Linked DNA regions of Homo sapiens: region 1 is linked to region 2. Evidence: fine-mapped expression QTL. A gene starts in region 2. The other region holds a variant in brackets. All regions are shown on one strand. Distances are between the middles of the regions. Region 1 overlaps SLC38A12 (solute carrier family 38 member 12). Region 2 holds the start of GRIN2C (glutamate ionotropic receptor NMDA type subunit 2C).

What was found. PIP is the estimated chance that this variant, and not a neighbour inherited with it, causes the effect. A credible set is the group of variants that fine-mapping cannot tell apart.
Region 1: its variant is the best candidate, but not a certain one, in a credible set for the expression of GRIN2C in cerebellar hemisphere (GTEx, PIP 0.50).

The regions. Positions count from the first base shown.
Region 1 is chr17:74,802,102-74,806,483 of GRCh38, reverse strand. The region is part of intron 8 of SLC38A12 (solute carrier family 38 member 12); the gene reads right to left. Among named protein-coding and RNA genes, the nearest start is that of SLC38A12, 28 kb to the right of the region's middle. The variant A/G (reference allele first, on the strand shown) is at 2,479.
Region 2 is chr17:74,857,257-74,861,638 of GRCh38, reverse strand. It overlaps GRIN2C (glutamate ionotropic receptor NMDA type subunit 2C), which reads left to right and starts at 1,754. Exons shown (of 13, transcript NM_000835.6): 1 at 1,754-1,895. RefSeq lists an enhancer at 229-927.

The sequences.
Region 1 (4,382 bases), 55 kb after region 2:
GCTCTCATGTTTTAGTTTTTGAGATCTCTCTACAAAAACAGCTCTTTTAGTATTTATGCTGGATGTCAAGGAGGAGGGAGGGGATGGGTGCACGGCATTATTCTCCCCGACGGCTGTGCCTGGAGAGGCTGGGTCTGGGTTAGCCGGGGTCACAGTATACCACTATCTTATACCAGTGAGAAGGCCGGGGCATGTCTTGCTTGGCCACATAACTGCTGGGGGCTGGGCTACCACTGTTGGGGCCAGGCTAGGGGTCAACTTGATCCTCACAGGTCCTAAGAACAAGAGAGCGTGAGAGGAACAGGTGGGCTGTGTCGCAAGTGACAGAGGATGGGGGACCCTCTGAGCCATCAATCTAGCCCCTCAGCTCCCTTGGGAAAAAACACCCACACCTCCAACCACCTGATTCTGCCAGGAATTGAACTGCTCAGAACATTCATTGGTGGTGATGTGTGTGCCCATGGGCCTCGGAACCCATGAGGCCGCTTGCGTCTCCAGTAACCAGCTGGCATCTGATGGCTTTTGGTGCCCAGAGTCTAGCTGTCAATCCCCCGCCCTGCCCTGGGAACAGGAGGAGGCAGTGCCATCGCCCTCTGTTGCCCGGAGCTTGTGCGTCACTCAAGGAGAGGTGCCAGGCGATCACTTGAGATGCTCTCGGCATCTTCCCTTCCTCGGTCCATGCTCTCGGCGCAGGAAGAGCAATGGCAGTGGGAACGCTCCAGCAGGAGCTGGAGGAAGCAAGGGAGGGAAGTCAGGTGCCCAGAACACGGGTGCCCTGCAGAGAGGGCTGCACAGGCCCAGCTGGCTCCACCCCTTTTCTGCTGACGTCTGGCCTTGAAATAGACCGGGAACTGAGTAACCTTGGAGGCGGGACGGAGGGGAGATGGCATATCAAGCTGGCTGATTAATGAGCTCTCTTGAAGCGGGTTTGAGAAGTGACATCAGCAAGCCCCCAGCTTCCTCCCTAGTCGGGGGTCAGAGTGAGATGCCCTCTCCGGGGAGCTGGCACGCTGCGGGGTCTAGAGCCCCCAACCAGCAGCTTCAGAGGAAGCTACAGGGGAAGCCTAGAGCACCACCCGCTAGGGACATGGGAGGTACCCGTCAGCCGCAAGTGACAAAGCAGCCTCCAGCCAGTGGGCACGCACAGCCCCTCTTCTCTCTGGCAGTGCCTTAGGTGTGGACTCCAGGATGTGGCAGCACCTGTAGGTTGCCCAGCCCCTCTCCTTTCCCTGCAAAAGGCAGGCACGGGAAGCCCTTGACAGCTGCCTCCACCATGGTGCTGTGGGAAGCAGTTCCTGAAGGAAGACCAGAGTAGGCCTCTCCCCGGGAGACCTTTTACTACCTCGACAGATCTGCGCCAGCAGGATTTCTCAAAGGGAAAAGCACACAGAATTCTCCTCAGAACTGGTTGAAAATGCGGATTCCTGGGCCCTGTGGCCTTCGAATATACTGCATCAGGCCTGGCGCAGGACCCAAGCATCTACATTTTTATTAAGAGCCCGAAGGCACTCTTGTGCCAGTGGTCAGGCAACCAGATCTTGAGAAACACTTTCCTGATCCAGGGGAAAGGGACCAGCTGGGAAGTGTTCCCAGAGACTGTTCACCTGCCTCTCAGGTGAAGCACAGCCTCCCTGCAGTAGTGTGGGAGAAGGCGCCAGAACTGGACATTACAGACCGCAGGGGCCTCCCGGCCTCAGCCAGTGCCCAACACCCAATACCAGTCCCTGCATTCTCTTCCCATCAAGGTGTTCAGAAAATGTCTCAATCCATGGTTGAAGGAAGTTCTTGCCATTGCCAAACTACACATGCCCTGCGGTGGCTCAAGACCCTTCTAGAGTCACACTCACATGGGGTATCTGCTGCCACACCCCCAGTGCCTCCTTTTGTGCCTGAGGCTTATGAAAATGTTCCTTGGTCCACTGTCAGCGAATCCACAAGACATCCGGGCTTATGCTAATTCATCCGATATCATCATTAATGTGCACCCTAATCGTTCAGCTCTGTGTAAGGGCCATCATAGCCGAGTCCCTCGCACCTCTCTGCTGGCTGTAAACCCTCTGGGGTTCTGTGGCTCCTCTCCTCAGGGCCAGGGTGCACTGCACAGCGCACACTCAGCTATTTCTTCTCTGCACACAGGTGCTGCTTTTGAGCCAGTGTGCAGGGCCAGCACCGCTGGCTGGGACACTGGCCACACGAAGGATCACGGCTATTACTTTTGAGTGAGTGCTTTATTTAATTAAACAATTACTGCTAGGGCCCTGGGGCGCTATATAGAAAGACATCAGGCTCTGCTTATGATACACACCCTGTAACAGAGCAAGCATCATTCAGGGAATAGCACAGCCTCACAAAACTTGGCAGGGCCACCACAAATGCCACAGACTGATCTACAGGATAAAAGGAGCAGCCAGACACGGAGCAGAAGACAAACAGTTTGGCATATACAGTTTTCATTTTAGTTAGCACAAAATATTGAAG[A/G]ACATTCCATGTTACTCTCAAACTACTGGGAGGTTGCTAGATTCCACAGACTATGGAGTTTTTTGACACTTTTATTTTGTGAAATGAAGAAAAAAATAAAAAATAAAAAAGGTGGCAGGGAGAGATCTGAAATCAACAACTGGGATGTACTCTTAACAGATATAATAAAAACTATTTTTAGTTCTTTGCCCAGAAATGGGAGTTCTGGAAGCAGCGGGGTGCACAGTGTGGGATGGACTGGGCTGTTGAGCTTTGGGAGTCTGCCCGGGGCTCAGCTTCTCGAGGGGAATGACTGGAAATGCATGTGCACGCACAGGTCAGTGGCCAGGATCAGCCCAGGTGGCTTGGGAAGTGAGGCACACCGGGTTTTTATCCCTGACTGCACCACTCACAAACAAGGAGGGCTTAGGCCTCGGGCTCGGGGTCTGACTGGGATCAGGATGAGACCTGCAAAGAAACGGTCCTGAAAAAGCTCAGCGCAGAAGGTCCCCAGCAGGGATGGATACTCCCCCACTGAGCCCTGCCTGGAAGCTTCCCAACCAAATTGGCCTGTGCACAGGTGTGGGGCTCGGGTATATACTTATCAAGCTCCGCGGAGCTCTCCCAGCTCAGGGATGTGGATGGGGAGAGGGGAAGGGGAATCGCTGGTTACTGCTTTCAGGTGGGCTGCCTATGATGTCCACCCCAAGCCCTGCCTGCCTGTTTCTCCAGCAACATCAACCGGGCTTTGGGGTTCTGCACCTTTGCCTATGAATACACGGATATCTCCCTTTACACAAGAGAAGGGCTCCTGAAGTTCTTTTACAAATGCTTAATTTTCACAGAACAACATTTAAATACACTAGGGAAACTGAGTACTTAAGAGAAATCTGAAGCAAATCCTTCTGTAAAGTAAGGAATCACTTTGTAACAAGTAACTACCCTCCCAATTTATTTCATACCTTTGGATTTTCATATAATGGGGTTCCTAGGAGTTAAGAATGCTGGGTGTGTGTGGGTCAAGGTCATGGCAACAGATCATTTCCCATCTCCATTCACTTCCTGGGGGAATTGGTGAATGGGGGTGGGGTGAGGGATGAGCAACCAGGTAAGTTACACTGCCGTTTTCCCCACGTGCCCGGGAGTAAACCTGGCTTGCTGCGGGTAGGAAGTCTTTGCAAGGCTATACTCATTATTTTACAGACAATGGAGATGGGGTAAAGAAATATGGTTTAGGCTAAGCACCCCAAATCCAAAATTCCAACACCTGAAATGCTCCAAAATCTGAAACTTTTTGAGCACTGACACGATCCTCAAAGGAAATGCTCACTGGAATATTTTGGATTTTTGAATTTAAGATGCTCTACTGTGAGTATAATGCAGATATTCTAAAAATCTGAAGAAAATCTGAAATCAGAAACGCTTCTGGTCCCAAATATTTTGGGGAAGGGATACCCAACCTGCACATTCTACCAGGGCCAGAGACACCCAACTGTCATGCTGTGAAGGGGGCTATGTCGGTCACCAGCTTAGAAGCAAGAACATAAGACCCTGTCACCCCTCAGGACCTTGACAGAGGCCCATGAGCAGCTTCCGAGCTGGGTAAGGGAGTGGTAGGGAGAAGAAGCCACTGCCTGCTGCTTTGTGACACTGAGTCCCCCAGTCTGGCACCTGTACTGAGACCATAGAGGCGGTGGCACGGGGGACTAGGCATCATCCTCTCAACTGGCGCATAGGTATTGGCCAAGGTGGGGACAGGTCATAGGTCGTGGGGCATGATGGATGGTGGGCATAATGCCAGTCAACCGAACCCACGTCCCTGAGAGTGACATTAAAAACAAAAACAGCAACCCTCTCCCTGAGCAGGAGGAGAAAGCATGGGCACTGGGGATGAGGGTGGAGGAGGCAGTCACAGGGTGACTCAG
Region 2 (4,382 bases):
CGGGAGGGTCGCGGGGCGCAGGGGCGGGTCGGGGCCAGCGGACCAGGCCGCGCCACCCGCCCCCGCCCCCGCCCCGCCGCGCCCGGGCTCCGGCGCCCGCGGAGCTGAGACTGAGCGCGCCAGCCCTCCGGGGCCGAGGCTCTGGGACAGACACCGCGAGGGAGGCGGCCGGCGCGGGCTCTCGTCGCGGGCGCAGCGCCCCTTCCCCTCGGTAAGTGGCGAGCGGCGGGCGAGGGGCACCAACTTCGCCGCCAACTTGGGGCTGGGTTCCCGCGGCGCGCGAGCAAGGACGGCGGAGACAGAGGCGGGACACCCGGGGGGTTGGACCCACGCAGGACTCTCGGGGCTCAAGGAGGGGGCGGCTGGAGGACCCGGACCCTCAAGAACCTGGCCTTGGGTTTTGACCCGGGCGGCCGGAGAGAAGGCGAAGAAGAGGCCGAGCAGACAGGCGCGCGGCGGACGCGAGAGAAGGACGCGGGCGAAGCGTCCAAGACGTTCGTCCCCAGGGTCGCCGAGCCCTCCTCCTCCTTCGCTTGGCGCGGCAGCACCGCGGGACCAGGGGAGTCTGGGCTGCCGCGGACCCAAACTGTTGCTGCTGGAAGCCGCCGGGGCGGAGAGCGGGGAACAGGGCCGGGAGTGGGGGCCGGGGCTGGGATCCACCAGAGCGAGGGGTTGGAAAGGAGTCGAGAAGGTGAAAGGGGGCTGTGCGGCTCCCCAGCCCAGTGCCCCAGTTTCCCTAGGTCTGCTGGGCACCTGCTGCGCACTCGCCTCGGCGCCCAGACCCCTTCCCCCGCCGCGAGTCCCGCTTCTTCCCCTTCCAGCTCTGCCCCATCTCCTTTGCCCCAGCCTAGCTCTCTCCTTCCTGCGACCTGGGAGAATCGGAGTGGGCTTCCAGAGTAGTGGCATCTTGCAGATGCTGGCCCGTGCCCGGCTCCCGGGCTTCCAGAGCGCAAAGGGAAGGGTAGGCAGAGAGGGCACTGGGCGAGCAAGACCTGGCGCTGGGCCCTGGCTGCGCACCAGCCGCCTGCGCCGGTCTCTGGGGGCTTCGCCCAGGATCCCCGACGGCGGGGAGGGGAAGCCCCGAGTCTCCTGTTTCCTGCCTACGCGGGCAGGGCGGGGACACGCGGAGCAAAGGCACCCGGCAACCTGAACCCCCAGGTGCGTCCCGCGACCCTGCAAGGAGCTGCTGGGTGAGCAAGACGGGAATTCCCGCCAGGCCCTGATGCCCACCCCATTCGTCCACTCGGTTTCCCAGCCCTGGTCGTCCAAGGGGACTTCTGGCTCGGTCCCCCAGCCCTCGGATGGTGGCGTTATCTTAGTTCAGTCCCTGACCCCGGGCCACAGGAAAATCGAGGAAAGACACTTATTTGGGGAGGGTACCATTCCGCTGGCTGTATTTCAGAGCCCGTCCAGGTCTTGGCGGTGCTAGTGACTTTGAGCCTGTTTCTAAACTCCCGAAGAATAAGAGCGTGCCAGGGGCAGGTAGGCAGGTCCGGGACACCTGGGTTCGCCCAGGGCCCCCGGGCGGGCCTGGGATGGTACTGGGGCCGCCTGCCAGGCTGGCTTGGTCCCCCCACTGCGGGACTCGGGGTCACGACCCAGCTTGGGGGAGTGGGGGTGGGGGCCCCGGAGCCGCGGACGCCGGCGGGGGGCAGCGTGGGGCGGGGGGCGCCGGGTGCGTGGTGCTCAGCTTGGCCGCCAGGAGGCGTGGCGCGGGTCCCCGCCCGGAGCCGCCGCCGCCGCCGCCGCCGCCGCATCGCGAGTGTCCTTGAGCCGCGGGTGACGGTGGCTCTCGCTGCTCGCGCCCCCTCCTCCCGCGGGGGGAGCCTGATGCCACGTTCCCTATGAATTATTTATCGCCGGCCTAAAAATACCCCGAACTTCACAGCCCGAGTGTAAGAGATTGCTGCGGAGGGGAGGGGGCGGGGCGTCCCGGTGGCCAGGGGGAGTCCGGGCGGGGTCCGCGGAGACGGGGGCCGTAGCCTTGGAGGAGCAAGAACTCCGTGCCCCCAGCAGTGGGGCAAGCTAGAACGGCGGTCCTCTCCCCTGGCGCCTGGGTTCGGGTTTTGGCTGGGCAAAAGGGAGGGAGGGAAACCCGACGGCAAAGGAGGGGCGGCTCACCGGAAGGGCAGGGGGTCCGGGGGTTCTGCTGGTGGGTGGGGAGGACTCCTGCGACAGAGTTTCCTAGCCTGGGAGAGGGAGAGCCATCGGTATCTCAGATGTGAGCGGGTATGAGTGCGGGAGTGTGCATGTGTGTGCAGGTCCGTGCCAGGGGGTCTGGCTGAGCTGTGAGGACCCGGGAAGGAGAAGGCCCCCAGCCTGGGAAGGTGCTCAGACCCTTCTAGATGCTGCTGTGTCCTGCAGGACTGACCACTGCCATCCTCTCTGGGGCTCTTTGGGGATCTCTGTGTTTGTCAAACATTAGTTTAAGGGCTGTTTGTGGAAGGGGTGAGACCCTGAGTGGGTGGGTGGGCAGAGGTCTCTGAGACAATGTGTCTGCCCTCAAGGAGCCCGCAGTCCAGTGTGGGGCAGGGTGTTAATGAGTGCACACACACCTGCCGCAGGGCAGAATGGAGGGGTGGAGGGGACCACTACACAGAGCTCCCCACCCAGGAGGGGAAGCCAGGGCAGGGGGAAGAAGGGCAGGTGCCCCAGCCTGGCCGCAGTCCCTGCGCCTAGAGCCTGAGGCATCAAGGCAGGTGCCTGTGGGAGAGGGATTTCAGCTGGGCCCTGAAGGAGAGTAGACTTCTGTTGGGATGAGGACATTCCAGCCTGGGGGATGCTGGAACGAGGCCTGGAGATGAGGGCAGAATGGGGCTGTTTGGCCAGCAGACTGGCAGAGCTGTGGGTTCCAGGGATGGGAGGACGGTTGGTTGCGGTCAGGGTGCAGAGGGCTCTGTCTATGGGACTAAGCTGTCTGGACTTCATTTGTGGGCACCAGGGTGTAGCTGTCCTGTGTGAGGAGGGAGCAGTGGCTGGAGGAAGGCTTCAGCAGTGCAGTGGGGCTGGCGGGGGTGGGTAGGTGGGAGGTGGGGAGGGGGAGGCAAGGGAGGAGATTGTGGCGGGGGAAAGTGGAGTTTGTCCCTCCTACCTCTGTAGGGTGGCTGGGTTAGACGGGGTGATGAGACAGAATTCGGAAGCTCCTTGAGTCTGCCCCTTGCTATTTGGAGCCCAGGGACTTACCTAGTTTTGGCCCCTGGCTCTGGAGGTATTCTGGGATCCCTCCCCCATTTTAGGCCCCTTGATTAGAGGTACAACCTGCCTCAACTCCCCCACCCCCCGACCCCCAACCCCCAACCCAGCAGGACACCTTCCCTTTGGAGAGAGTCTCTGGTGTCCCCAGCCCATGAGGATGTCTTCCTATTGGAGAGAGTGGGAATGAGAACATTTTCAGCTATTACCAGACCCTTATTCCTTCATGTGAATGAGCTCTAGGTCCTTGGCTAAGAAAAGGTCTTGACTGGGGAGGGTGGAAGCTTGAGGGGAGTAGGGAGTTGGAAAGAGAAATACATTTAGAAAAAGGAGGTTGGAGATGCTAATGGCAGACTGCTTATTCTGCCCCTTTGCAGTTGAGGGAGAGCCTGGGCCCTTCATCCAGGGTCACACTGTCCAAAGAAATAAAATGGGAGCCACAAGTACAATTTAAAATTTTCTAGTAACCACATTAAAACAAATAGAAACAGGTGACGTTAATTTTAATAGTATATTTTCTTTGACTAAACATACCCCAAATGTTATTATTTCAACATGTAATCAAGATACAAGTGTTTACGAGATTTTTTACATTCTTTTTCCCTGTTGTCTTCAATGTGCAGTGTGGCATGAAATTTTACACTGATAGCAAACTCCGTTTGGGTGAGAGATGTTTCTGGTACCCAATAGTCGTGTATGACTGGCGGCTCCTATACTGGGCAGCACAGATCTAGAGCTCATTACTGGGAGGCAGGGGTAGTAGGAGGTTTGGGGCTCCCCAGAGGGCAAGGAACCTCTAGGACCTGGAGGTGTGGGCAGAGGTGAGCAGACAGAGGCCGTGCAAGGGGAGCGACAAGCATGTCAGTGTCCTTTGTGGTTGAGATCTGACATCCCTGATTGGTGGTGGCAGCTGAGGCATGGCATGGCATGGCTAGGATCGATCCCTTGCCAGACTCAAACATGTCTCTGGGCTGTCAGTTCTGTCACTTCTGTCACTTCTGTGTCACTGTACTAGGGAACCGTACACATGGGAAGATTTCAAGGGCGCCACCATGAGAGCAATATTCCCTTCCTTGCCAAAACTCTTGTCTTCTTGGCCTGAAATTCTACCACCTGGCACTTTAGCTTAAGGCTCTGATTGTGGTTAAACTACATCTCTCTTGGGAATGAGAACCCTTTCAGCTATGATC